4 linked regions of the Homo sapiens genome follow. The protein of the gene in region 1 purifies or fractionates together with the protein of each later gene. This does not show direct contact. Each region holds a gene or a part of one and is shown in the gene's direction. Other genes may lie near its edges. The genes, in order: RBM34, STAU1, DDX27 and LIN28A.

The links.
Region 2: the proteins of RBM34 (region 1) and STAU1 purify together in Homo sapiens (affinity purification with mass spectrometry; 3 studies listed by BioGRID and IntAct, with this or other methods). This does not show direct contact.
Region 3: the proteins of RBM34 (region 1) and DDX27 purify together in Homo sapiens (affinity purification with mass spectrometry; 3 studies listed by BioGRID and IntAct, with this or other methods). This does not show direct contact.
Region 4: the proteins of RBM34 (region 1) and LIN28A purify together in Homo sapiens (affinity purification with mass spectrometry; 2 studies listed by BioGRID and IntAct, with this or other methods). This does not show direct contact.

Annotation. Positions count from the first base shown.
Region 1 is NC_000001.11:235,144,235-235,151,259, reverse strand, and holds part of RBM34 (RNA-binding protein 34), read left to right. Parts: intron 1-2,812; coding exon 2,813-2,856; intron 2,857-7,025.
Region 2 is NC_000020.11:49,122,317-49,129,341, reverse strand, and holds part of STAU1 (double-stranded RNA-binding protein Staufen homolog 1), read left to right. Parts: intron 1-4,736; coding exon of another isoform or gene 4,737-4,754; coding exon 4,755-4,967; intron 4,968-6,106; coding exon 6,107-6,250; intron 6,251-7,025. UniProt on the Homo sapiens protein: Binds double-stranded RNA (regardless of the sequence) and tubulin.
Region 3 is NC_000020.11:49,222,396-49,229,420, forward strand, and holds part of DDX27 (probable ATP-dependent RNA helicase DDX27), read left to right. Parts: intron 1-561; coding exon 562-621; intron 622-872; coding exon 873-1,038; intron 1,039-2,549; coding exon 2,550-2,596; intron 2,597-2,717; coding exon 2,718-2,804; intron 2,805-4,034; coding exon 4,035-4,140; intron 4,141-6,319; coding exon 6,320-6,493; intron 6,494-7,025. UniProt on the Homo sapiens protein: Probable ATP-dependent RNA helicase. Component of the nucleolar ribosomal RNA (rRNA) processing machinery that regulates 3' end formation of ribosomal 47S rRNA.
Region 4 is NC_000001.11:26,413,809-26,420,833, forward strand, and holds part of LIN28A (protein lin-28 homolog A), read left to right. Parts: intron 1-7,025. UniProt on the Homo sapiens protein: RNA-binding protein that inhibits processing of pre-let-7 miRNAs and regulates translation of mRNAs that control developmental timing, pluripotency and metabolism.

The DNA of each region.
Region 1 (7,025 bases):
GGCACCCAGGCTGCAGGTTTTGTGGTTGCCTTTGACTCTTCATTGGCTCACCCATGCTAGTGTTTGCCACTCCTGTCCGTTTTTCAACTGTGATTTCTTCCTAATATGAGTCATTCCTTTCTTTTTTCCTTGTCCTACCTAAGTTCTCATTACCTCCTGTCAGAATAGTCGCAGAGGCCTATTGTAGTTCCTTACCTTCAGTCTTCCTCTAATTTGTCCAACAAAACACTGTGAACTCAGTCTTCCTGAAGCTCTTCTTCCCGGAACCCTTACCTCTTTCCCTGCCTTGCATTAATGAAACGCCCTTCCCCCCATCCCCCCAGCCGCCACACACACACCCCTCACGGGGCCTGCTATTGCCTTCTCCCCTTTGGGGAGCCTACCTTGATTCTCCCCAGTCTCTAGGCTACCAGTGTGTCCCTGCTATGCATTTGACAGCACCCATCCCTCATTACAGTACTTAGTACACTCTACTGAAATTGTCGTTTGCCTCCTCCACCAGACTGTAAGCTGTGGTTACAAATACTCTGTCTTACTTCTTCTTGGGTTACCAGCACCTGTACATTGTGTTAATTATTCTGTCAGTGAAATACATCCTTAATTCTTAGCTTGGCAGTTCTCCAGTGTGGCCCTGCCTCTCCTGTGTTCCTCTACACGTGGGTTTTCTCACCTTTGTCCCTTTGCCAGTCCATTTGTTTTGCCTGGAATCCTTCCTTAAAGTACCATTTTTGCCTATGAAAGTATTTTTCAGTATGTGGCTAAAAATGTCCCTTCTTCAAAGCTTTTCCGATACTTTATATCATTAAGTGATATTTTTTCCTCTGCATTATTCCTGTACTTTATTGCCTTATGTTGTACTTATGTATTAATATCTTTAATGACAGGATGTAGGCCGGGTGCAGTGGTTGATGCCTGTAACCCAGCACTTTGGGAGGCCAAGGCAGATCACTTGAGTTCAGAAGTTCGAGACCAGCCTGGCCAACATGGCAAAACTACGTTTCTACTAAAAATACGAAAACTAGCTGGGCATGGTGGCGGGGGCCTGTAATCCCAGCTACTCGGGAGGCTGAGATGGGAGAATCGCTTGAACCTGAGAGGCGGAAGTTGCAGTGAGCCGAGATTGTGCCACTGCACTCCAGCCTGGGCGACAAAGCGAGATTCTGTCTCAAAAACAAACAAAATAAAACAAAACCAAACAAATAACGGGACGTAGACGCTGTACAGAAGGCACCCAATAAATGTGTTTTGATGATGTCATTCACATGTTGATTATTCATTTAGCCATTTCTGTGTCTTGTACTGTTTTTTTGAGGTTTGAGAGTTTGACTATGTTAGCAATTTTAGCAAGATAAACTGCAAACAGAAGAAATAGTTAAAATTTCATAGTTTTACTATGTAAACTATCAGGTTACTGAGAAAGAAAATAGGTTTTCCAGAAAAGATTTATAATAACTACCCTACATGGCATTTATGTTCTAGATTGTGAACTTGCAGGGTTGGTATCTTTTCACCTTGATCTTCTCAGTACCTGGTTGCATTTGGCATGTTGTCGACAGCTGTAGTTGTTGACGTGTATTTCTGCCTCTTCCATAAAGTTTTCCCTACCTGCCCCATCCACTCTTAAAGGAGGCTATATATGACTGGAAATAAAGTGAACCTGAATATAAAGGGGATTCCCTTACCTGCATGATGGACACCATGCATTTTTTTGGCTAATATATAAACTCTTAGAGATACAGGTGATATGTCTTTTTATATTATTCATCAGTTCAGTTAGACATATTTAAAAATTTATTAGAATACACGATAAAATGTTAATTTATAAACATTTCTTTTTCCTTAACATTTTTCCTTTTTTTTTTTTTTTTTTTGAGACGGAGTCTCGTTCTGTCGCCCAGGCTGGAGTGCAGTGGTGCCATCTGGGCTCACTGCAAGCTCCGCCTCCCGGGTTCACGCCATTCTCCTGCCTCAGCCTCCTGAGTAGCTGGGACTACAGGCGCCCGCCACCACGTCTGGCTAATTTTTTTGTATTTCTAGTAGAGATGGGGTTTCACCGTGTTAGCCAGGATGGTCTCAACCTCCTGACCTCGTGATCCGCCCGCCTTGGCCTCCCAAAGTGCTGGGATTACAGGTGTGAGCCACCGCGCCCGGCCTTTTCCTTACATTTTTCATGTGTCTTTCATCGTCGGTGTCTCTTCCTGGAGTCCTCCCTGTAGGAGTCATCTGATGCAATTTGAGAGCCCGGTATCTTAACTTCTGTCTGGGTTTTTGAGTCCCTGCCTGTTAAATCTGAGCATGATGGTTTCATTGGAAAAACTTATCCTAAGCCACGAGCTTCGTTTCATATAGCATTAAGATGATTGGCCAGCCGTGGTGGCTCATGTTTGTAATCCCAGCACTTTGGGAGGCCAAGGTGGGCGGATCACGAGGTCAGGAGATCGAGACCATCCTGGCTAACCTGATGAAACCGCATCTCTACTAAAAATACAAAAAATTAGCCGGGCGTGGTGGCGGGCGCCTGTAGTCCCAGCTACTCAGGAGGCTGAGGCAGGAGAATGTTGTGAACCCAGCAGGTGGAGCTTGCAATGAGCCGACATCATGCCACTGCACTCCAGCCTGGGTGACAGTGTGAGACTCCATCTCAACAGGAAAAAAAAAAAAAAATTAGGACAGTTGTTTCTGATTTGTTTATTTCCCTAGAATGTTTTTGATCACAGTGTACTGGAGTTAGATACTTAGACTTCACTTAAAATATTAATTTGAGGTAATACTTCAAATACTGTCTTTAATACTTTTTTTTTTCTCTTGAAAGATTCCAGCAGAGGGAACGCTATCCAAAAAGTTGGCAGCAATAAAGTAAGTTTATAATTAGAGAAAGGGAGTCACCTTAAACTTTCTTCCTTTTTGGCTAAAAAGTGAGACCATTTCTTAACAATTGCATAGATTTTATTAATATATTTGGATAATAGAGCATGATTGACTGTTTGCTTCTGTATTTGAGAGCCTTTAGATTTGTCACGTTTTTCTTTAAGCCATAATATAATTTACAGAGTCGTAGAAAATATTACTGGAAAATGAGCCATGAGAAATTTTAAGAATGTTTTTAGTGTTTGGAAGAGAGTGTAAAGCTTCATGCCTAAATTTTCTCATACAGATTACAAATGCCATATTTCCTGTGTTTTTCCAGAGAGAATTCATGTTTGCTTGTGCTGGTCACCTGGGTATACTGCCAGCCTGTGACCACTTGGCGTTCTCTGTTTGAGGGTTTTGGACCACACTGGTGGTGGCTTGTTACCAGTGCTCAGGGGATTTTTTTTGTTTCCCACTCAGTGTCAAGAATGAAACCTACAAGTCTCCTTGTTCGCCCTTCCATATGGAAGGCTTATTTTTCATTTACCTTCAGCTTTATGCCGGTTTCCTATTAGTCTCATATCTTGGGTGTTTTTCTCTCTTAATGGTATATGAAATGATGAAGTTTATAAGCAGATATTTCTTTATATTAGATAAAATATAATAATGTACTTTAGAAACATTTCTGGGAATCCTGTTCTATCAAGCTTTTGTATGGCAACAGTCCCTTTGGACATCTTGGTGACTTCATTTCAATATTGAGTCTTCATTTGGAGTTATTTGGCCGACCAGGTCTTCGCCGGTTTTTCCTCATAACCATCACAGTGCCAGGTGTATAGTTAAGAGTTGATAAATATATAGATTCCCACAGTGTTTGCTGAGGTAACCAAAGATGCAGATCCTCCTAGATACCAGGCATTGTTCAGTGCTGTGGTGACTAGAAACCTTAGTAAGATACAACCCTTCTTTTTGAGTCATACTTTTATTTCTGTATGAAGTTGAAACCCAGGAGCCTAAATTTGAACAGAAACAGAGGTTCTGACAGGTGTATGTACAAGTACTACTGAGGAGTTTAGTGGGATATGTTAGAAAATTGGAATTTTCACACCATACCGTCAGCTTCTCCTCCAGCCCCATCTCATTGTTTTTTTGTTTCTTTGTTTTGTTTTGTGTTTTTAACATACAAGCTCTTGCTCTGTCACCCAGGCTGGAGTGCAGTGGCAAGATCTTGGCTCACTGTAGCCTTAAACTTTTGGGCTCAAGTGATGCTTCCATCTCAGTGTCCCCAGTAGCTGGGACTACAGGTGTGCACACCACCCTGGCTAATTTATTTTATTTTATTGTAGACACAGAGTCTCATTATGTTTTTCAGGCTGGTCTTGAACCCCGGGCTTCAAGCAATCCTTCTGCCTCAGCCTTCTAAAGCAGTGGGATTATGAGCATGAGCCACTGCCTTTTTGTTGTTGTTTTTAATTTAAAATTTAATGATGGCTGGCTGTGGTGGCTCACACCTGTAATCCCAGCACTTTGGGAGGCCGAGGTAGGTGGATCACTTCAGGCCAGGAGTTTGAGACCAGCCTGGCCAACATGGCAAAACACTGTCCCTACTAAAAATAGAAAAATTAGCAGGGTGTGGTGGCACATGCCTGTAGTCCCAGCTACTTGGGAGGCTGAGGCAAGAGAATCGCTTGATCCCAGGAGATGAAGGTTGCAGTGAGCCCAGATCACGCCATTGCACTCCAGCCTTGGTGACAGAGCTAGACTCTGTCTCAAAATAAATAAATAAATAAAATTTAATTATACACCTTTTCTCTAGTCAGCCAATTCCCTACCCTAGGCAAGTGTTTTTAGTTTCTTATGTAAGCTTCTAGAGACATCTTAGCATTTAAAAACTGATACGCATAGATGTTCTTCTTCCCACATAAAACAGTTTAACTCACTGGTATTTAATATATGCACTACTCCACACCTTCCCTTTTTCTGCTTAGTACAACTTGGAGATCTGTTTATATTGGTGTGAAAGTGATTATTTTTATAGCATTTTTTAAAAATGCCCTTTTTCTTAGAGTATTCTCTAGGTGTGCCTTAATTTATTTTATCAAATCTCCCACTGATGGACATAAAGTTTTTTCCCAGTCTCATGACCATTACAAATAATGCTGAAGGCCGGGTGCAGTGGCTCACGCCTGTAATCTCAGCACCATTAGAGGCCAAGGTGGGCAGATCGCTTGAGCCCAGGACCTCCCTGGGCAAAATGGCAAAACCCCATCTCTACAAAAAATTAGCTGGGCATGATGCTGTGCACTGTAGTCCCAGCTGCTTGGGAATCAGACGAAGGAGCACCTGAGCTCAGGAAGTGGAGCTATGATTGCACCCCTGGCACTCCAGCCCGGGTGATAGAGTGAGACCCTGTCTTCCAAAAAAAAAAAAAAAAAAAAAAAAACCTGCTGTAATATTTTAGCTGGTCATGGAGGCACGTGTCTGTAGTCCCAGCTACTTGGGAAGCTGACGTGAGATGATCACTTGAGCCCAGGAGCTTGAGGCTTCAGTGAACTGTGATCACACCACTGCACTGTAGCCTGAGCGACAAGCAAGACCCGCTCTCTCAAAACAAAACAAATAATGTTGGAGTAAATGAGTGACCTTGTACTTAGGTAATTTTGTACATAAGCTAAACTTATCTGTAGGATAAACTTCTAGCAGTGGCATTGCTCAGTCAGAAGGGTATTTGCATTCACAATTTTGACTGCTGTCTCGTAGAGATTGCAACCTATTTATGTTCCCACATCTTTACCAACAGTAAAGTCTTTTACTTTACAAAAACAGTATGTTGGCCAGGGAAGATGGCTCATGCCTGCAATCCCAGCACTTTGGGATGCTGAGGTGGGTGGATTGCATGAGCCTAGGAGTTCGAGACCAGCCTGGGCAGCGTGGCGAGACCTCATCTCTACAAAGAAACAAAAAAATTAGCTGGGCAAGGTGGTGCACGCCTGTAGTCCAGCTACTCTGGGGGCTGAGGTGGGAGGATCACTTGAGCCCGGAGAATGGAGGCTGCAGTGAACCATGATTGCACCACTACGCTCCAGCCTGGATGACAGTGAGACCCTATCTCAAAAAAAAAAAAAAAAGTATGTTTTTGAGCTTTGTGGTTGTTGGAAACCTGAGTGTGGTATTTCTAATTTGAATTTCTCTTATGAGTGAGCATCTTGTCATGTAATTTAAGAGTCATTTGTGCTTTCTTTTATTTGAATTATTAGTCTTATTGATCTGTGGGATGTTCATGAAATCAGTCTTTTGTGACATGAATTATGAATATTTTTCTCTATTTGTCATTTGCTATTTGTTTATTTATTTAATTTATTTTTTGAGACGGAGTTTTGCTCTTGTTGCCCAGGCTGGAGTGCAATGGCGTGATCTCAGCTCACCGTAATCTCCGCCTCCCTGGTTCAAGTGATTCTCCTGCCTCAGCCTACTGAGTAGCTGGGATTACAGGCATGTGCGCTACACCTGGCTAATTTTGTATTTTTAGTAGAGACGGGGTTTCCCCATGTTGGTCAGGCTGGTCTCAAACTCATGACCTCAGGTGATCTGCCCCACCCTCGGCCTCCCAAAGTGCTGGGATTACAGGCATGAGCCACCGCGCTGGGCCTTATTTTATTTTTAAGAGATAGAGTGTTGCTTTGTTCTCCAGCAGAAGTGCAGTGACTCAGTCATAGTCCACTATAGCCTGGAATTCCTAGGCTCAAGTAATCATTCTGCCTCAGCCTCCCAAGTAGCTGGAACTACAGGTGCACACCACCACACCCTAGCTTGTTGGCTTTTTGACTTGGCTTATGGGAAATTTTGCCATGTAAAACTTTTTTCCTTTTTCTTATAGCCAAAATGTTTAAAACCTTTTTTTTTTTTTTTTAGTTTATTAAGGCTACTTCCAGTAAACTGCACATATTTGACATGTACAATTTTATAATTTTAACATATGTAGGCAATCTTGAAACCACTGCCATAGTCCAGATACCAAACACTTTATCATCTCGAGTTTCTTCTAACCCTCTGCAATATGTCCCTCCACCTCTGTCCTCAGGCAGCCATTCATTTGCTTTCTGTCTCTATGTGTTAGTTTGCTTTTTCCAGAATTTTATATAAGTAGAGTCATCATACAGGATATACTCTTGTCT
Region 2 (7,025 bases), on another chromosome or scaffold:
CGTTCCACCCTGGGTGACAGAGTGAGACTCCGTCTCAAAAAAAAAAAAAAAAAAAAAAAAATTTTTTTTTAAAGTCATTCTAGCAGGTAGTCAGTAGTATCTTGTTGTGGTTTTAATTTATATATCTCCATGAAGACTAGCAATACTGAGCTTCTTTTCGTGTTTTTATTTTACTATTTTCTTTGATGAAATATAGGTTTATATCTTGCCAGTTTTTTTGAGTGTCTTTTTATTATTGAGTTTTGGAGGTTCTATATATATTCTGAATTCAAGTTTTTTCTCAGATAAGTATTTTGCAGATATTTTCTCTTAAGTCTGTGGCTTGTCGTTTGATTTTAAGTGACTTTCAAAAAGCAGAAGTATTGAATTTTGGTGAGGTGTAGTTTGTTAAATTTTTTATAGTTAATAATTTTTGTGTATGCTGAGATACATTTGGCTAACCTAAAGTCATTTTCCTTAGAAATTTTAGTTTTAGCTCTTACATTTAGGTTTATAATTCATTTCGAGTTAGTTTTCATATATACTGTGACATAAGGGATGTTTTTGTCTTTTTTTTTTTTTTTTTTTTGGATTTGGATGTCTAATTGTGCCTGCACTGTTTGTTGAAGAGACAGTCCTTTATTTTTTGAGACAGAGTTTTGCTCTTGTCGCCCAGGCTGGGATTACAGGCTTGAGCCACCATGCCTGGCTGAGACAGTCCTTTATTAAATAACCTTTGCACCTCCCCTCTTCACATTTTGAGAACTTCCATGCTTTCTGATACAACAAAATGTTTTAGCCTCACTTTGAACTTCCCCTGCTCTAGCTTTAGCCCCAGTGGAAACATAAATTTCTAATAGAAATGGTCTTGGCCATTCCTCCAAGAAGATCCGGTTCCTTCTAATTGGGAGTGGTGTGTAGAGACAGGACAGGGTGCTAGCATGCTTGTTCCTGCTGGAGAGCCATGGCTCTCGGTTAGGAGATAGAGCTAGGAAATATGTATATTTTGAAATAACAAGTTTATTTTATTTGATTTTAGAGAAAAGAACTCACTTGGTACCCGGGCTGTAGTGCAGTGGCATGATCTCACCTCACTGCAACCTCGACCTCCTGAGCTCAAGTGATCCTGCTGTCTCAGCCTCCCAAGTAGCTGGGGCTACAGGCACACGCCACCACACACTGGGCTAATTTTTGTATTTTTTTTTTTTCCTCTGAGACAGAGTTTCGCTCTTGTTGCCCAGGCTGGAGTGCAATGGCGTGATCTCAGCTTACCGCAACCTCTGCCTCCTGGGTTCAAGCGATTCTCCTGCCTCAGCCTCCCGAGTAGCTGGGATTATGGGCATGCGCTACCACGCCCAGGTAATTTTGTATTTTTAGTAGAGATGGGGTTTCTCCATGTTGGTCAGGCTGGTCTCAAACTCCTGGCCTCAGGTGATCCGCCTGCCTCGGCCTCCCAAAGTGCTGGGATTACAGGCGTGAGCCACCGAGCCCAGCCAATTTTTGTATTTTTTTTGTAGAGACGGGGTTTTGCCATGTTGCCCAGGCTGGTCTCAAACTCCTGGACTGAAGCCATCCACCCGCCTTGGCCTTCTCAAAGTGCTGGGATTACAAGAGTGAGCCAATGTGCCTGGCCCCTTTTTTAGTTTTTTTTGTTTTTTAGACAAAGTCTTGCTCTGTCATCCGGGCTGGAATGCAATGGCGCGATCTCAGCTCACTGCAACCTCCGCCTCTGGGGTTCAAGCATTTCTCCTGTGTTAGCCTCTTAAGTAACTGGGATTACAGTCATGTGTCACCACACTCAGCTAATTTTTGTATTTTTAGTAGAGACAGGGTTTCACCCTGTTGGCCAAGCTGGTCTCAAACTCCTGACCTCAGGTGATCCACCCGCCTCGGCCTACCACAGTGTTGGTATTACAGGCGTGAGCCACTGCACCTGGCCCCCTTTTTTACTTTTTAAATGTCTTTTGATGAGCAGTTTATTTTTTATTTTATTCATTTATTTATTTTTGAGATGGTGTTTCGCTCTTGTTGTCCAGGCTGGAGTGCAGTGGTGCCATCTCAGCTCACTGCAACCTCCGTCTCCTGGGTTCAAGCAATTCTCCTGTCTCAGCCTCCTAAGTAGCTGGGATTACAGGTGCCCGCCACCACGCCCAGCTAATTTTTTATATTTTTAGTAGAGACGGGGTTTCACTATGTTGGCCAGGCTGATCTCGAACTCCTGACCTCGTGATCTGCCCACCTCGGCCTCCCAAAGTGCTGGGATTACAGGCGTGAGCCACCGCGCCCGGCCAGTGGTTTTTAATTTTGAGGAATTTCTTTTTTCTTTATGGTGGATATCTTTTGTGTTCAACTCTTTGCCAGCCTTACAGTCTTGAGGCTTTCTCCTGTTATAAAGTCTTTGTAATTTTAGTTTAGATCACATTTAAGTGATCCTAGGTCTAATTTTTGTTGTGGTATGAGTTAGAGATCATGGTTTGATTTTTTTTTCTTCCCCCCACCCCGCTCCATGCAGATACCTAGTTAGTTGCTCTGGTACTATTTTTTTAAGAGATTTTTAATTTGTTTTGGTGTGTTTGCCAAAAATCGAGTGACCTTATATGTGCAGGTCTTTTTCGTGCTGTTCTGTTGATCTATTTATCCTTACACAAAACCATATCCTAGTTGTTGTGACTTTATAGGAAGTTTTAAAATCTGGTAGTGTAAGTCTTCTATTTTTCTTTTTGAGTGTCTTGGCTAATATCGGTTAGATTTTTAAGTTTTTTTGTTTTTTTTTTGTTTTTTTTTTTTTGCTTTTTGAGACGAGGTTTTGCTCTGTTGCCCAGGCTGGGGTGCAGTTGTGTGATCATAGCTCCCTGTAGCCTTGATCTCCTGGGCTTAAGTGATCCTCCTGTTTTAGCCTCCCACATAGCTAGGACTACATACAGGGGCACACTACCACACCTGGCTAATTTTGTTTTTATTTTTGTAGAGTCAAGGTCTTGCTGTATTGGCCAGGCTGGTCTTGAACTTCTGAGCTCAAGTGATCCTCCCACCCTGGCCTCCCAGAGCGTTGGGATTACAGGCATGAGCCACCCTGCCCAGCCTGATTTTCTATCTGTGTTATTGTAATCACTTTCTTGATAATGTCCATGATACACAAAAGTTTTAAAGTTTGATTAAGTGTGACTTTTTTTTTTCCCTCTTGTTGATTGTGCTTTTAGTTTCATATCTTAAAAACCAATTGCCAAACCCAAAGTCATGAAGACTCGCCTGTTTTTGCTTCTGAGAGTTGTGCATGTTAGCGCCTCTGTGTAGGTCTTTGGTCCATTTGGAGATTGTAATCACTTTAATATGCAGCTAACTTTCTGTTCATGTTTAATTTTAGATTCTTTCCCCATCTTTGTTGACTTAGTTTTATTTCTTTAATATGTAAAACAGTAAATGCTTCCAGAAGTCAAAACTATCATTCCCGTCTCATCCCGTCTGTCTACCCTAATCCCTCACACCTGTTGTAGGTAACTAATTTCATTGCTTGCTTTTTGAGACGGAGTCCCACTCTGTCACCCAGGCTGGAGTGGCGCAATCTCAGCTCACTGCAAGCTCCGCCTCCCAGGTTCACGCCATTCTCCTGCTTCAGCCTCCCGAGTAGCTGGGACTACAGGCGCCTGCCACCACGCCCGGCTAATTTTTTTTGTATTTTTAGTAGAGACGGGGTTTCACCATGTTAGCCAGGATGGTCTCGATCTCCTGACCTCGTGATCCACCTGCCTCGGCCTCCCAAAGTGCTGGGATTACAGGCGTGAGCCACCGCGCCTGGCCCATTGCTTGCTTTTTTTTTTTTTTTTTTTTCCTTTGAGACAGGGTCTTACTCTATCGCTTAGGCTGGAGTGCAGTTTTGTGATCTTGGATCACTGCAACCTCCGTCTCTCAGGTTCAAGGGGTTTTTGTGCCTCAGCCTCCCAAGTAGCTGGGATTACAGGTGTGCACCACCACCCCTAGCTAATTTTTGTATTTTTAGTAGAGATGGGGGTTTCACCATGTTGGCCAGGCTGGTCTTGAACTCCTGACCTCAAGTGATCCACCCGCTTTGGTCTCCCAAATTGCTGGGATTACAGGTGTGAGCCACCATGTCCAGCCCATTGATTTTTTTTATCCTTCGTTTTTTTTTTTTTTTTTTTTTTTTTTGCAAAAATGAGCTTATAAATGTGTGTCTGTTTATATATGTGTAGATATTTGTATAAAATCCTATTTTTCTTAAACTAAAGCTACCATACCATATACTCTTTTGTGGGTTTTTTTTTTTTTTTTTTTTACTTAATGTGTGCGGGGAATCCCTCTTTATCAGTGCTTAAGAGATTTGTCTCGTTCTCTTTTGTGGCCACATAGCAACCAGTATTTAGTAGGCCTAGTCCTGGCTGGAGGCTCAGAGCAGATACTAAACTTGAGCATTTGTACTGCATTTATTTCTGGACTTTGCTGGGCTAGCTTCCTTTTTGCCAGTTGCAGTGGACCACACTAAACTCAGGACAGCCTGTGAGCCAGGGGCATGGGAGTAAAAAGGTCTCCCTATTTCATGCCTGACTGTTTGGGACTCACCAGACTCAAGAGCATAAACCAGTTTGAGAAGTAAGAAGAAAGGCGAGAAAGCATTTGAAATGATCCCCGCTTCCTTTCATTTAGTAGGTCTTGTCCTTGGTTCCCCTTCCCTGTGTCTGTGTGAAGTGTGCCAGCCAGTGTGCCTTGGAGCTTTTAATAAGTGTCTGTCCGCTTTCACTCAGTCTTTCCCTCTGAAACAGGTGGCCCGGGAGAGTGGCCCACCCCACATGAAGAACTTTGTGACCAAGGTTTCGGTTGGGGAGTTTGTGGGGGAAGGTGAAGGGAAAAGCAAGAAGATTTCAAAGAAAAATGCCGCCATAGCTGTTCTTGAGGAGCTGAAGAAGTTACCGCCCCTGCCTGCAGTTGAACGAGTAAAGCCTAGAATCAAAAAGAAAACAAAACCCATAGTCAAGGTGAGAACTTTTCTGAACACAGAAGGTGTTTTCATTACTTATAGATGGGTGGGGGGTTTAGAAGGCTGGTCGCTGTCCCCAAGGTGAAAGGGGATGAGACCAACGTGCCACACCCCAGGCCTGCCAGACCCCTTAGAGGTGCTGCAAGAGCCACCTGTTAGGTAAGATAAGGACATTGTGTCAGTTCAGTAGAGGTACCCGCAGACGGGCACACACATCTGTGCAGGAGGGCGCTCATCACAGCCCTGGCGATCACAGTGGGGTATTGGGCAGGAACGCCATGCCGGTCTGTGGGGCGCGTGGTGAAATAACAGTGCCTGTGTCTCAGTGACCATGTTGCTGTTCTGAAGGTGGAGGAGATTTGTGCCAGGCAGGAGGCCCATAGTGGGAGGGTAGGAGTGAGACATTTTGCTGTGTGCCTTTTCTTTTGGATTTTTGAGCCACACTAATGGATCTATCAAAGCATTATATTGACCCCTTCCCCAACCCCAGAAAGGGGACATAATTCCATGGGGAACTTTGTGATTTTCAGTATATGTAGTTTCATGCTGTATCAAGATCCAAATTTTTCTTACATAAAAGCATACTATGTATACCTTTTGTTTCCCTTTTTTGCTTAATATAGCCTGGAAGTCACTTCTGATCAGCAGAGTGAGGGTTCCTTGGCACAAAAGGTGGCCTCAAGGAAGTAACTGGGATTCTGAGGTTCTTCTTGCCATGTGGCATCAGCTTGAGCTTTTTTAAAAAAGTGGTTCCTGGATTTTGAGTTCTTTTCAAGAAAATTGGGAACCCATCATAGCTCAGACTTTTGGGGAGTTGTAGGAATAGTGTTTTATGTTTTTTCTGCCCATTTACTGTCATATGTTGAAATATGTTAAAAAACAGCCGTCGCAGTCATAGTGACGCTTCGTTATAGTGAAATGTTGATGTTGGTTTGCTAAGACCTTAAAATCACCTAGAACAATCATAAAAAAAATAAAGCATCTTTTCATTGTTAAAATGTTAAATTAAAAAAAATCGAATTCTGAGCCATTAGGTCAACCCAAAATCTCTTATCTCCTCTCATATCCTGATCTCTGAGTTGACCAAGTTCATGCGGTGAATAACATTACAGAGTTTCTGCCTTGTTTGTTCCTCAGCCACAGACAAGCCCAGAATATGGCCAGGGGATCAATCCGATTAGCCGACTGGCCCAGATCCAGCAGGCAAAAAAGGAGAAGGAGCCAGAGTACACGCTCCTCACAGAGCGAGGCCTCCCGCGCCGCAGGGAGTTTGTGATGCAGGTGGGTCCGCATGGATGATGGGCGCCCCTTCCTCTGACCACGTCCAGCCTTGGGGGCTGATGGCGGTTCAAGGTCTGGACACCTTCCTGAGGAGGCTGGATCCTGTGGGCCATGTTCTGCCAGCGACTGTGATCCTTATTTATTTATTTATTTATTTATTTATTTATTTATTTTTGAGATGGAGTCTCACTCTGTCGCCCAGGCTGGAGTGCAGTGGTGCTGTCTCAGCTCACTACAACCTCCGACTCCCTGATTGAAGCGATTCTCCTGCCTCAGCCTCCCGAGTAGCTGGGATTACAGGCACGTGCCACCATGCCCAGCTAATTTTTTGTATTTTTAGCAGAGACGGAGTTTCGCCATGTTGGCCAGGATGGTTTTGATCTCCTGACCTTGTGATCCTCCCACCTCAGCCTCCCAAAGTGCTGGGATTACAGGCGTGAGCCACCTCGCCCAGCCAACTGTGATCCTTATTAAGACCTTGTGGCTTGCAATAATTTGATAGCTTAAACATACCACAGAAATCTGTAAAGGCTACATATCAAAGATTAAGTTGTTTATCTTAATGCTTAAAAAAATGAATGTAATGTCTGCACACCAGCACTACTGCTGGGTGCACTGGTGGGAATGTGGGTGTGTTGCACTGAAATTTGGAAGAAAGAGTCCTGGGGTGGTGGGTGCTGGGAGAAGTTTTTCTTCATTACATCTCCTTGAAGGTTTATGACATTGCTCTTTACCAAAGGTAAATTTTGTAAGTAGTATCAAGAGATCTGTTCCT
Region 3 (7,025 bases), on another chromosome or scaffold:
GCCTCCTGGGTTCAAGCGATTCTCCTGCCTCAGCCTCTTGAGTAGCTGGGATTACAGGCATGAGCCACTGTGCTCAGCCTTACCAGCACTGCATTTTCAAGATCGTCTGGAGAGGATTAAAAAAATTTTTTTTTTTGAGACGGAGTTTTGCTCTTGTTGCCCAGGCTGGAGTGCAATGGCGTGATCTCGGCTCACTGCCACCTCCGCCTCCCAGGTTCAAGCAATTCTCTTGCCTCAGCCTCCCGAGTAGCTGGGATTACAGGCATGCACCACCACACCCGGCTAATTTTGTATTTTTTTAGTAGAGACAGGGTTTCTCCATGTTGAGGCTGGTCTCGAACTCCTGACCTCAGGTGATCTACCCACCTCGGCCTCCCAAAGTGCTGGGATTACAGGCGTGAGCCACCGCGCCCGGCCTAAAATTTTTATATATATAATATGTATATGTATTTTCAGAGAAGGCCAAAATTTTTTCTTTTTCAAGTTAATTATGAAGAGTTTGTTCTCTTATTCGATGTTTCAATGAAAATTTCTTTTTCACCTCTTTATTTTTATCTGCAGAGGGCAGCCACTACATTAGATGAGAAGATTGAGAAAGTTCGAAAGAAAAGGAAAACAGAGGTGAGAAGAAAAGTGGCTATTTTTCGTTGTTAGGGCCCACTCTTTACTCTCACCACGACCCCAGCATCTCTCTGGAAGCCCTTATAGAGCGGGGCATGGCTGGGGCAGGCGCACTCTTCTGTGTGTTTGCTGTGAATCTGTACTGAGAATCCCCACAGCCGTTCATTCAGGCCGGAGAGCTTCCTATCGCTCTACTTAGGTTCTGGATTTCTAGAAGTTTCTCATCACCCTCACTTTAATTTTTTTCCCAGGATAAAGAAGCCAAGTCTGGGAAGTTGGAAAAGGAGAAAGAAGCAAAGGAAGGCTCTGAACCAAAGGAGCAGGAAGACCTTCAAGAGAATGATGAGGAAGGCTCAGAAGATGAAGCCTCGGAGACTGACTACTCATCAGCTGATGAGAACATCCTCACCAAAGCAGGTAGACGTTACGGCGGAGGTGTCAGTAATGGGGACAGGAGATCAGAAGGCATCCTCCTTTACTTTGTAGGGTTTCCTCCACTCTTCTGCACAGTTTATCTTTAAGCTGTTCTGCCTACTACATTGAACTCCTTTCTTTCTTTTTTTTTTTTTTTTAAGAGATGTTGGCTGGGTGCAGTGGCTCATGCCTGTAATCCCAGTACTTTGGGAGGCTGAGGTGGGTGTATCGCTTGAAGCCAGGAGTTTGAGACCAGCCTGGGCAACATGGTAAAACCCCATCTCTACTGAAAATACAAAAATAAGCTTGGTGTAGTGGCATGCACCTGTAATCCCAGCCACTCAGGTGGCTGAGGTACGAGAATCACTTGAAACTGGGAGGCAGAGGTTGCAGTGAGCTGAGATTGTCCCACTGAACTTAACCCTGGGCCACAGAATGAGACCCTGTCTCAAAAAACAAAACAAAAGAGATGTGGTCTCACTCCATCCACAGGCTGGAGTGCAGTAGTGCAATCATACCTCACTGGAAGGCTTGAACTCACTGGCTTAAGTGATCCTCCTGCTTTAGCTTCCTAAGTAGCTGGGCCTACAGGTGCATGCCCCTGCGCCTGGCTAATTTTTTTTTTTTGTAGGGACGGGGTCTTGCTTTGTTGCTCAGGCTAGTCTCAAATTTCTAGGCTCGAGCAGTCCTCCCGCCTTGACCTCTAAAAGTGCTGGCATTACAGGCGTGAGCCACTGTGCCCGCTGAATCCTTTCTTTTAGGTTTTCTTTTCTCTTGGGATTTTGTTTGGGTTGTTGTACTTCATAGGTAGTTTACTCTTTTCCCATCTAGCCCCATGCGGCTGCCAGATGCCACTGTGATACAAACTCATTTGGGGTGACATACTCAGATGGGTCCAGCCACATAGTGGGTGCTCAATAAGTATTTCTTTCTTTCTTTTTTTTTTTTTGAGATGGAGTCTTACTCTGTCACTCAGGCTGGAGTGCAAGTGGTACAATTTCAGCTCACTGCAACCTCTGCCTCCCGGGTGCAAGCAACTCTCCTGTCTCAGCCTCCCAAGTAGCTGGGACTACAGGCACACGCCAACACACCTGGCTAATTTTTGTATTTTTAGTAGAGATGGGGTTTCACCATGTTGGACAGGCTGGTCCCGAACTCCTGACCTCAGGTGATCCACCTGCCTCGGCCTCCTAAAGTGCTGGGATTTTAGGCGGGAGCCACTGCTTCCGCCCTCAATAAGTATTTCTTGCAGAAATGTGTGCTAAAGCATCATAATACAGTGTAGTGGTCGAGAGCCTGGTCTCTGGACCAGAGTCACTGGGTTAGCTTTCTCTCTGACCTTAGGCAAGTTACTTCACCATGCTGCCACAAAGTGTCCTCATCTGTGAAACAAGGTTGACGATGGTCACCCCTCAGAGGCTGAAGTGTGGCATTGGCACTTAGGACAGTGTCCAGCAGGATGCAAGTGCTTTGTAAGTCTGAGCCGTGGTCATCAGCTAAGTTTTTCTCCATAGATACACTCAAAGTAAAGGATCGGAAGAAGAAGAAGAAGAAAGGACAGGTGAGCTTGGGGCTGCAAGACAGTATGCAGCTTGTTGGCAAACCGAAAGGAGTTTAAGGTCGTTTGGGTTTCTTGGCTCTTTTTGTTGAATTCTCTTCTCTCTTTTGGTTTTCTGGTGTAGGAAGCAGGAGGATTTTTTGAAGATGCATCTCAGTACGATGAAAACCTCTCGTTCCAGGACATGAACCTTTCCCGCCCTCTTCTGAAGGTAGCAGCTTCTTGTCAAAAATTTTCTTTGTAGAAGCATGGTCTTGCTATGTTGTCCAAGATGGTCTCAAATTCCTGGCATCAAGCAATCCTCTTGCCTCAACCTCCCAGAGTGCTGGGATTTGAGCCACTGTGCCTGGCCAGTAGTGGCTTATTTTGGCAACCATGGGATTATTGCAGCCACCCCTAACTGGACTTTCTGCTTCTCTCTTTGCCTCCCTCAACTCTTGTCCATACAGTTGCCAGAGAACTCCCTTTTTTTTTTTTTTTTTTTTGAGACGGAGTCTCACTCTGTCGCCCAGGCTGGAGTGCAGTGGCACAATCTCGGCTCACTGCAACCTCCACCTCCCGGGTTCACGCCATTCTCCTGCCTCAGCCTCCCCAGCAGCTGGGACTACAGGCACACGCTGCCACGCCCTGCTAATTTTTTGTATTTTTAGTAGAGATGGGGTTTCACCGTGTTAGCCAGGATGGTCTCGATCTCCTGACCTCGTGATCCGCCCGCCTCAGCCTCCCAAAGTGCTGGGACTACAGGCGTGAGCCACCGCGCCCGGCCGAGAACTCTCTTAAGCAATGAGTTCCATCGTGTCCCTCCTCTTCTTCTCTGAGTCCTTCAGTACTTCCCAGTCTCACTCTTCTTAGAAGCCTGAGTCCTTATATTGACCTACAAGGCTCTGCCCCTTCTGGCCCTCTCTGACGACACCTCCTGGCACTCGTTCTGCTCTGGCCACACTGGCCTCCTTGCTGGCCCTCAAATAGGTTAGGCCTCCTCTTCCTCAGGGCCCTTGCACTTTCTGTTCCCTCTGCCTGGAAAACTCTTCCAGAAATCTTTTGGGGTGCTCTCTAGCTTCCTTCAGGGTTCAACTCAGTATCCCTTGCTCAGTGAGACCTTCCCTGGCAGCCCTACCGTGAATAGCACTCCCCCTGCTGCCCGTCTGGCCGCTGCATTGTTTTCCGCAGCATCTCTCCATATGACATGTGTTTGTTTTTTGGTCTGTTTCTACCAGACTGTAAGATTCCTGAGGGCAGGGTTTTTATTTCTTTTATTTACTGCTGTGTCCTCAGTGTCTAGAGCACCACCTCACACATAGTAGGCGTTCAGTGAATGTTTGTGGAACGAATGATTGGTGGGGATTGGTGTGGTCCCCACTTGTCTGGAAACCTGCCCTGTTTGTGTTGTGCTGAGACTTCCCCCGCTCAACCCTGTCTGACCCAGTTCTTTTTTCCTCAGGCCATTACAGCCATGGGCTTCAAGCAGCCCACCCCGATCCAGAAGGCGTGCATACCTGTGGGTCTATTGGGGAAGGACATCTGTGCCTGTGCAGCCACTGGGACAGGTGAAAAGGATAGGGACCCAGGGTGGGCAGAAGGGTGTTACGGCCAGGGCTGGGCTCTAGGTTGACTTACCAAAGGCTGGTTTGCTAAATAAATATTCTTGGTTTTTTGAACTATTTCATTTTTATTTTTTATTTTGTAGAGATAGGGGTCTCACTTTGTTGTCCAGGCTGGTCTTGAATTCCTAGGTTCAGGTTCAAGCGATCGATTTTCCCATCTTGGCCTCCCAAAGTTCTGGGATTACAGGCATGAGCCACTGTGCCTGGCCATAAAATTTTTGTAACACAAAAAAGATATACTGGTGCAATTGAGAGAGTAAAGGACTTTTTTTTTTTTTTTTTTTTTTTGAGACGGAGTCTCGCTCTGTCGCCCAGGCTGGAGTGCAGTGGCGGGATCTCGGCTCACTGCAAGCTCCGCCTCCCGGGTTCACGCCATTCTCCTGCCTCAGCCTCCCAAGTAGCTGGGACTACAGGCGCCCGCCACTACGCCCGGCTAATTTTTTGTATTTTTAGTAGAGACGGGGTTTCACCGTTTTAGCCGGGATGGTCTTGATCTCCTGACCTCGTGATCCGCCCGCCTTGGCCTCCCAAAGTGCTGGGATTACAGGCGTGAGCCACCGCGCCCGGCCGAGAGTAAAGGACTTTTAAATTTTTAACCACTTTATTTTGAAGTATTTGTAGATCAGTGGCAAGTTGCAAAAATAGTGCATAGGGTCTCTCGAATCCTTCATCAATGGTGACATCCCACATAACTGTAGGACAAAATCAAAACCAGGAAATTGGCACTGATACAACAGTGTTTCCTAGACTGCAGAGCTTACTCAGTTTACTGAAGGATTAATTTTTTGTTTTGAGATGGAGTCTCACTCTGTCACCCAGGCTGGAGTGCGGTGGCGCAATCTCGGCTCACTGCAACCTCTGCCTCCTGTGTTCAGGTGATTCTCCTGCCTCAGCCTCCCCAGTAGCTGGGTTTACAGGTGCCCGCCACCACACCCGGCTGATTTTTGTATTTTTAGTAGAGAGAGGGTTTCACCATGTTGGCCAGGCTGGTCTCGAATTCCTGACCTCAAGTGATACACCTGCCTCAGCCTCTCAAGAGTGCTGGGATTTACAGGTGTGAGCCACCGTGCCTGGCATACTGAAGGATTAATTTTGTAAGATAAACAGTGCATGAGAGGATGTCCGGTCTAGTAGTGGGCCACAAGTTTCAAAGGGTCTGATGAAGGTCATTTTCATTTAATCCTCTTGGGGTATCCCTGATCTCTGTGACCATGGCCTCCTGGCCCTGCCATATCAGAGGAGGAAATTTTTTTTTTTTTTTTTTTTGAGACAGAGTCTCGCTCTGTTGCCCAGGCTGGAGTGCAGTGGCGCAATCTTGGCTCACTGCAACCTCCGCCTCCCGGGTTCAAGCGATTCTCCTGCCTCAGCCTCCTGAGTAGCTGGGATTACAGATACACGCCACCATGCCCGGCTAATTTTTGTATTTTTAGTAGAGACAGGGTTTTACTATCTTGGCCAGGCTGGTCTTGAACCCCTGACCTCATGATCCACCTGCCTCAGCCTCCCAAAGTGCTGGGATTACAGGCATGAGCCACTGTGCCTGGCTGTATTTTTTCTTTTTTTTTTTGAGACAGAGTTTTGCTGTTGTCACCCAGGCTAGAGTGCAGTGGTGCGTTCTCAGCTCACTGCAACCTCTGCCTTCAAGTGAATCTCCTTCCTCAGCCTCCTGAGTAGCTGGGATTACAGGTGCCCACCACCAAGCCTGGCTAATTTTTATATATTTAGTAGAGACAGGATTTCACCATATTGGCCAGGCTGGTCTCGAACTCCTGACCTCAGGTGATTCGCCTGCCTTGGCCTCACAAAGTGCTGGGATTACAGGCTCCCGCCACCATGCCCAGCTAAGTTTTTTGTATTTTTAGTAGAATTGGGGCTTCACTATGTTGGCCAGGCTGGTCTTGAACTCCTGACCTCAGGTGATCCGCCTGCCTCGGCGTCCCAAAGTGCTGGGATTACATATGTGAGCCTGACCATGTGATTTGAAAGCAGAAAAAATATTCTATGAAAAATAAGTTCCTTTATTTTCCCCAACCAGACGTAGTTTTTCTGTGCTCTGGTGAAAACCTAACCCTGGAGGGAGCTAAACTTCTTCTCATTGCTTCCTTGCTGTCCCTCCCTCCAGGTAAAACTGCCGCCTTTGCCCTGCCTGTTTTGGAGCGTCTGATTTATAAACCCCGCCAGGCTCCAGTCACCCGCGTGCTGGTGCTAGTGCCCACCCGAGAGCTGGGCATCCAGGTGCACTCTGTCACCAGACAGCTGGCCCAGTTCTGCAACATCACCACCTGCCTGGCTGTGGGTGAGTTTCTGGCCAAGGGCTGCCAGCCCCTGAGAGACTGTGGTGGGGTGGAGGATGGATGTGCCCCGCCATCTGTTGGTGTTGGTGACAGGTGCCAGGAGAGGCCTTTGTGTTGATTGAATCCACTTAAAAACTGGAAGACTTTTTTTTTTTTTTTTTTTTTTGAGACGGAGGAGTCTCGCTCTGTCGCCCAGGCTGGAGTGCAGTGGCGCAATCTTGGCTCACTGCAAGCTCCGCCTCCCGGGTTCACGCCATTCTCCTGCCTCAGCCTCCCCAGTAGCTGGGACTACCGCCACCACGCCTGGCTAATTTTTTGTATTTTTAGTAGAGACAGGTTTTCACCGTGTTAGCCAGGATAGTCTCGATCTCCTGACCTCGTGATCCGCCTGCCTTGGCCTCCCAAAGTGCTGGAATTACAGGCATGAGCCACCGCACCCAGCCGACATGTTTTCATAGTGCTTTAGGTGGGTGGGATTTGATTGAGACTTAACCAACCTTCACAAATGAAACCTGAAAACTATGAACATTTTTT
Region 4 (7,025 bases), about 210 Mb from region 1:
GTTTGTTTGTTTGTTGCTTTTTTTTTTTTTTTTTTTGAGATGGTGTTTGGCTCTTGTTGGCCAGGCTGGAGTGCAATGGCATGATCTCCACTCACCGCAACCTCCGCCTCCCAGGTTCAAGCGATTCTCCTGCCTCAGCTTCCTGAGTAGCTGGGATTACAGGCATGTGCCACCACGCTCGGCTAATTTTTTGTATTTTTAGTAAAGACGGGGTTTCTGCACGTTGGTCAGGCTGGTCTTGAACTCCTGACCTCAGATGATCCGCCCGCCTTGGCCTCCCAAAGTGCTGGGATTACAGGCATGAGCCACCACTCTTCTGCATTTGTGAAATTAGAAATGACTCTCTGGAAATCTTATGGTAAAGGAATTTAGTAAACACAGGATAAATTGTTTACTGGGGGAGGAGGAAAGTGTTCCCGAAGCAGAGGGTAAGAAATCTTTAACAAAACTTCCCATTCTTTGGCTGCTGGGGTTGGGCACCCTGGGGTTGGGGTGGGCTGGTGAGAAGGTAATTGTCCTAAGATAGCATCTACCAGAGGGAGGGGGTCAGGGAGCCCCTTTGCAAATAAAGAGGAAGGGGGAAAGGCAATTTAAAAACATTTTCTTTTCCTTTCCAAAGTTGGGGTTATTAGGATCCCAATGCCCTGTTAACTAATGTTCTTATGCTCTCTCCCAAATGCTGTAATATCCTCTTCAAGAGTAGATGAGTGGGGGGAAAAGCCCACCCCCAGCCAAAAACTAAGCAAAACGACAACAAAACAAAAAGCAAAGAGATTTCTATAACAACTCTTTTCCTTAGGTACACATCTTTAGATCTAGAAATCTGCCTGTCTCTAGAGTTAGGGAAATAGATAGCAAGCCCTTAAATTAGAGTTTCTCGACTTCAGCACTATTGACATGTTTTGAGCAGGATAATTTGTTCTGGGGAGTCTGTCCTATGTATTATAGGATGTACAGCAGTATTCCTGGTCTCTACCCACTAGAAGCCAGTTGCATCTTAGGTATGACAACCAAAAACATCTCCATACATTGTCAAATGTCCCCTTGGAGTCAAAAATCTCATCCCTGCTTGAGAAACACAGTTATATAGGAAAGCTGGAACAAGAAAGCTAAACTGTCAACTATTTTCCTGAGATTCATCAAGAATTCAAAAATCCTCATTTTGGGCCATTTTAAGAGTTTTGGCTTAACTCATGTTTCCTGTGGCTCAATTTGCAAACTCTCAAGATTTATAGAAATTTGGAAATAAGAAAAGTTCCCTGCTTTCCCATAGCTCCTCAGGACCCAGATATGTTTCAATCTCAAATATGTTTAAATTGGCTTTCTGGCTAAAATGCTATATTAGAAGACTTGGAGTCAAAAGCCCAGATTTGACCAAGGGACCAAGTTGGGTTAGGAGAAAAGGTTTTCAATACCTAGACAACTGCTGAAATTGCCCTGTAGCCAGGTGGCCTTCTTTTTCTAAAAGCCATGAGTGAGGAGGTGGTAAGAGCAACTTTATTCAGGGTCTAGGTTAGGACTGCTGGGTTTGGTGTTAGGGTTGCGGGGGCGGGTGGGGAAATATACGGAATCTTTCCTCCTGGTTTGTAACACTGCACCTCTGATTACTCACCTCATGTCTAGTTATTGAGGTACTGGTCTTATACCCTTCTCTATGTAACCCATAAGCTCTTTGAAGGGAGGAACTTAGCTGCCTGGTTAATTTTCTAGTATGCATTTGGTGGGCTGAGGAATGAATAAGAAAAGGGGCATCTTGAGGACCTTGGTGAATCAGAAGTACACTTAGCAGTCTGGGGTCCATGTTGGCAGAGATCTTTGTTCAGAGAAAAAGACTAGAGATACTGAGGGGTGTCAATTGTAGCTGCTCGCTTTCTGGGCTGGGCACAACATAGAATATGGCCTGGGCACAACATAGCACTATGAAAGTTTGTGGAGTGAATATGGGTAGATCACCACTCGGAGCCCAGAGAGGTTCCTCTCGTTTTTGTTGACAGAGTGGAAGCCACGGATTTAGTGGTCATCCATGAGTTATTTCTGTCTTAATAAGAAAAGGCAGCTTAAAAATAAATTGACTCGATTTTTCAGAAAGTTGGTAGAGAGGTAGGAAGGTTCATGAAGACATTGTGGAATCTTCTGGGGTCCTCTTCTTTCTGAGACATGCTTCTAGACAATGTCTTTTTTTTATTTTTATTTTTATTTTTTGAGATAGAGTCTTGCTCTGTCGCCCAGGCTGGAGTGCAGTGGCACGAACTCGGCTCACTGCAACTTCTGACTTTTGGGTTCAAGCAATTCTCCTGCCTCAGCCTCCCAAGTAGCTGGGATTACAGATGTACACCACCACACCCAGCTAATTTTAGTATTTTTAGTAGAGAAGGGTTTTCGTCATGTTGTCCAGGCTGGTCTCAAACTCCTGACCTCAAGTGATCCACCTGCCTGGGACTCCCAAAGTGCTGGGATTACAGGCATGAGCCATGATGCCCGGCGACAGTGTAAAGTAAAGGCTGTGACACCATCCTGAACAAAGCTTCAAATATGGGATGTTTCTACCCTCTGGTTGTTGACACTGCTGCCTGCCTTACAAGTGGTTTTCAGTAACATTCACCAGGGCCATTTAGTTTTTTGAACATTGCTAATCACACTCTACTGGAATTCTTGTTTTTTGGAGTAACTGCCCTAGGTAAAACTATGCCTCCTGTCTTCCTGCAGGCATGAATAGCAACCACTGGCCACATAGTCAGAGTGGGAGGTCAAAGGAGTTGGGGGAGAATACACAGTTGATACAGACTTATTTAACATGATCTCACCATCGAGGTTTTTTATTTTTTTTGAGACGGAATCTCTCTCTGTTGCCCAGGCTGGAGTGCAGTGGCGCCGTCTTAGCTCACTGCAACCTCCACCTCCCAGGTTTGAGCGATTTTCCTGCCTCAGCCACCCGAGTAGCTGGGATTAGAGGCACCTGCCACCATGCCCGGCTAATGTTTTGTATTTTTAGTAGAGATGGGGTTTCACCATGTTAGCCAGGCTGGTCTCGAACTCCTGACCTCGTGGTGATCCGCCTGCCTCGGCCTCCCAAAGTGCTGGATTTACAGGCATGAGCCACCATGACTGGCCCAGCGTGGTGTTATTTAATTTAGACAGGACTTGGCTTTTCTAAGCAGTAGAATATAAGAACTGAGTTTCTGGCCTAAAAGTCTAGGAACCTTTCATTCTTATCCCTGATCAAGCCGGTGGTTGGGTGGGGGCAGGGTGGGACGGGGAGGACAAGATGACTGCCCTAAGGAGCTGTGGAGATAAATCTACCCGAACACTTGAGTTCACAGCTCAGACCAGGTAGCGGGCCACTCAGTACCTCCTGGTATAGGCGCCCTCGGGCTTACCTTTGGGCAGACAGGCTGAGCAGCGCCATCTGGTGGAGAACTCCAGGCAGGAGCTACAGGGCCTGGCTGTGGCTGAGCAGAGGGGATCAGAGGGATTGGCTGCCTGCAGCCTTCTGTTCCAGACACCCCTTTCACCAACCTCCTTGACACACACCCTCCTTGACACACACACCATCGAATAACTGCTTCTGGGAGAACCGGTTGGTTCTCCCTTACCAAATCTTACCTCCAGGAATGAAGCTAAGTTAGGGATGTGACACCACAGGACTGAATCATTAAAATTACTTTCATCAGCTGCTTTTTTAAACGTAGCTACTAGAAAGTTTTCAATTATATATGTGACTTGCATCATAATGAATTGCACTGGGGAGAGTTAGGCCAGCTGCACTCAGCTCAGCTCTTGCCTCTTATTGCGACTTTAACCAAGGTGCTTATTAACCCCTCTGCCTCCATGTCCTCAAGCTGTAAAATGAGGGTCTTCATATCACCCCACTGCACCAGTTTGATATGAGGGTTAAATGAGTTACAACACGTAAAGTGGTTAGAATGCCACTTAGCCTACAGTAAGAATCAATTAGTAACAGTTATTTTGCATAGTACTTAGACATTCAACAAATGCTTGTGCAAGCTAAGAACCTAGAATTGAGGTAGAGACCTGCACTACAGAATCTTCCGGCTGGAATGGCCCTGGAAGAAGATCTGGAATAGCCTCTTGCGGAAGAGCCAAGAACCCCAGCTTTAATCTGCACAACTGTAGCAAGTACCCTGAAATTCTGTTGCCACTTCTGGAGAAAGGACACTTAGGTTCCTTTGTGTTGTTTTTTTTTTTTCTCTTCATACTTTTTTCTTTTATAATGTTTTCTTTTGTTTTTAACTCCACATTTCCTAAGTGACCCCTAAGGCTCATTCTATCTCTAAGCTTGCAAAGGCATAAATTGAAGCTGGGATGAGGTACTTGGTGTGGGTTGGATAGGGTAAGGCAGGCAATTACTGAGGTATTAAGAAGGGATCAGAAGGCCTAAGTACTTTAACTGGAGAGATTCCTTCCCTGTTATCAAAAAAAGAAAAAGAAATGCTTGGGGTGGGCGCGGTGGCTCACGCCTGTAATCCCAGCACTTTGGGAGGCCGAGGCGGGTAGATCATGAGGTCAGGAGATCGAGACCATCCTGGCTAACGCGGTGAAACCCCGTCTCTACTAAAAATACAAAAAATTAGCCAGGAATGGTGGCAGGAGCCTGTAGTCCCAGCTACTCGGCAGGCTGAGGCAGGAGAATGGCGTGAACCCGGGAGGCGGAGCTTGCAGTGAGCCGAGATTGTGCCACTGCACTCCGGCCTGGGCAACAGAGCCAGACTTTTTAAAAAAAAAAAAAAGAAAAAGAAATGCTGTCTGTTGTCTGATGCCACATTCCCCAACACAGTAGGCCCATGTAGGCTCCCCACAGTCCTAACTTGAAGAAATTGGGAAAGGATGATATGGGTCATGCCTTCTCTCCCCCTCCCCTTTAAAATAATTTATCTGAATCAATAATTCAGGATTGGACTGAAGAGACCCAAGGGGAGGGGGTCCTGTTTGGTTCTATCCATGAAGTGGGCAGTGCGCAAGCCAGAGAAGGGAGATGGCTGCTGATGGTGACTTTGGCAAGACTGCCTGGGGAAGGAAGAATTTTCTATATCTAGTTCTCTCCCGTGACCATAACCCCAACATAGAGAGGAAGGAAGAAACAGTTGAATGTGGGGAGGAGGGAGAGGGAGATGCAAGAGGGATCTGCTCCTTGGAACTCCAGGAATCTGACCACCAGAACCAGCCAGTGTCAACTCTTTGTTTCCTGGGGCTGGGCTCTACTGGGGGAGCTCAGGCCATGCCCCTCCCCCTAAGGTCTTTTCTTTTTGGAGGGGATGGGGAAGGGGGCGGGGCCCTGCTTTGTGTGTGGTTGGGGGTGGAATGGGGGTGGTACAAGAATTTCAGGCGCTTTTCAGATGCAGGCCCTGGGAGGCTGGCTCTGTGGGGCTGCACGCTGATTACCTATCTGATAAGAGAGGAATTCAAACTATGTGTTTTAGAAAGGGGCGGGGGAGGAGGGCAGGGAGCCACCCCTGGAGACCACCAGTTTAAATCTCTTGATTACACTGAGGTACCTGCAGGGGTGGGGGTTTACTCTGTAAAAGTCTTAGACCTCAGATCCTCCAGTGATGCAGTGAGTGACCTGAGAGGACTAGTCAATTTCTTGTTGCATGTCCCCATTTATATGATCCTCTTAAAATAAACCTATGAGGTGTCCATAGAGGAAGGTGTTACTCTCCAGTCAACTGGGGCTTAGAGAGGGGATATTCTTCTAAGTTTCTATAGCTAGTTAGGATAAAACCAGATGCTTGGCACTTAGTTCTCTCTGTTAACCCACGCCACCCAGTGTGAAGAGGTTGATAATTGCCACTCCCTGAGGATTTATGTGTAGCAGGCGAAGTGCTAACTACTTTTCATGTGTAAAACCTCACAGCACTACCATAAAATTAGTATTTACTCCATTTTATAGATGATTAAAGAAAGGAGGGAACAGGCCATCAGACTCAATCAACCCTTGTTCTTAACTATTTACCTGCTGAATCACAGCTAGAACTAGGAGTGTCCCAGCCTAAGACAAGCTGGGCAAGCAAATGAAGCTGGAATTGCTTGGGTCCAGAAGGCTCTTGGTCTGGCTCCTCTAGGACCTCCCAACTCACCCACTAATTGCATCTCTTGTCCCACCCCGCTCAATAAAAAATAAGTCAAATCTAATATAATCTTTATTTTTTGAGATGGGTTCTTGCTCTCTCACCCAGGCAGGAGTGCAGTGGCGCGATCTCAGCTCACTGCAAGCTCTGCCTCCCAGATTCAAGCGATCCTTCTACCTCAGCCTCCCAAGTAGCTGGTACCACAGGCACATGCCACCATGCTGAGCTAATTTTTGTATTATTTTGTAGAGAACAGGGTTTCGCCCTGTTGCCCAGGCTGGTCTCCAACTCCTGAGCCTCAAGCTCAGAATCCACCTGCCTCAGTCACCCAAATTGCTGGGATTACAGTTGTGAGCCACCATGCCCGACCTTACAAATCTAACTTTAAACTCAGGGTGGTTACTGTGAAACAGCGAGAGAGGTATTGCACCCGGCCTGCAATATCATCTTAAAACAAAAATTTGGCCGGGCATGGTGTGTAATCCCAGCACTTTAGGAGGCATGAGGTCAGGAGTTTGAGACCAGCCTGGCCAATAAGGTGAAACCCTGTCTCTACTAGAAATACAAAAATTAGCTGGGTGTGGTGGCGTGCGCCTGTAGTCCTAGCTTAAACCCAGAAGAATCGCTTAAACCCAGGAGGCGGAGGTTGCAGTGAGCTGAGATCGTGTCACTGCACTTCAGCATGGGCGACAGAGCAAGACTTTCTCAAAAAAAAAAAAAAAAAATTAAGTGATAAGGAATCTGTGGTTCCTTCATCTTGATGAAGAGCATGTTTCATTTAAGTTCCAGTTTGGAATATTACCCCCCAGCCACCAGCATAAAATACGAATGCTACTTACTCATGTTCCCTTGAGCCAGGACTAGGTAAGTGCACAGTGATCCCTTTTGCTTCTCCATTTTCTATGACGACTACTCCTTGTTGACATATTTGACACTGTT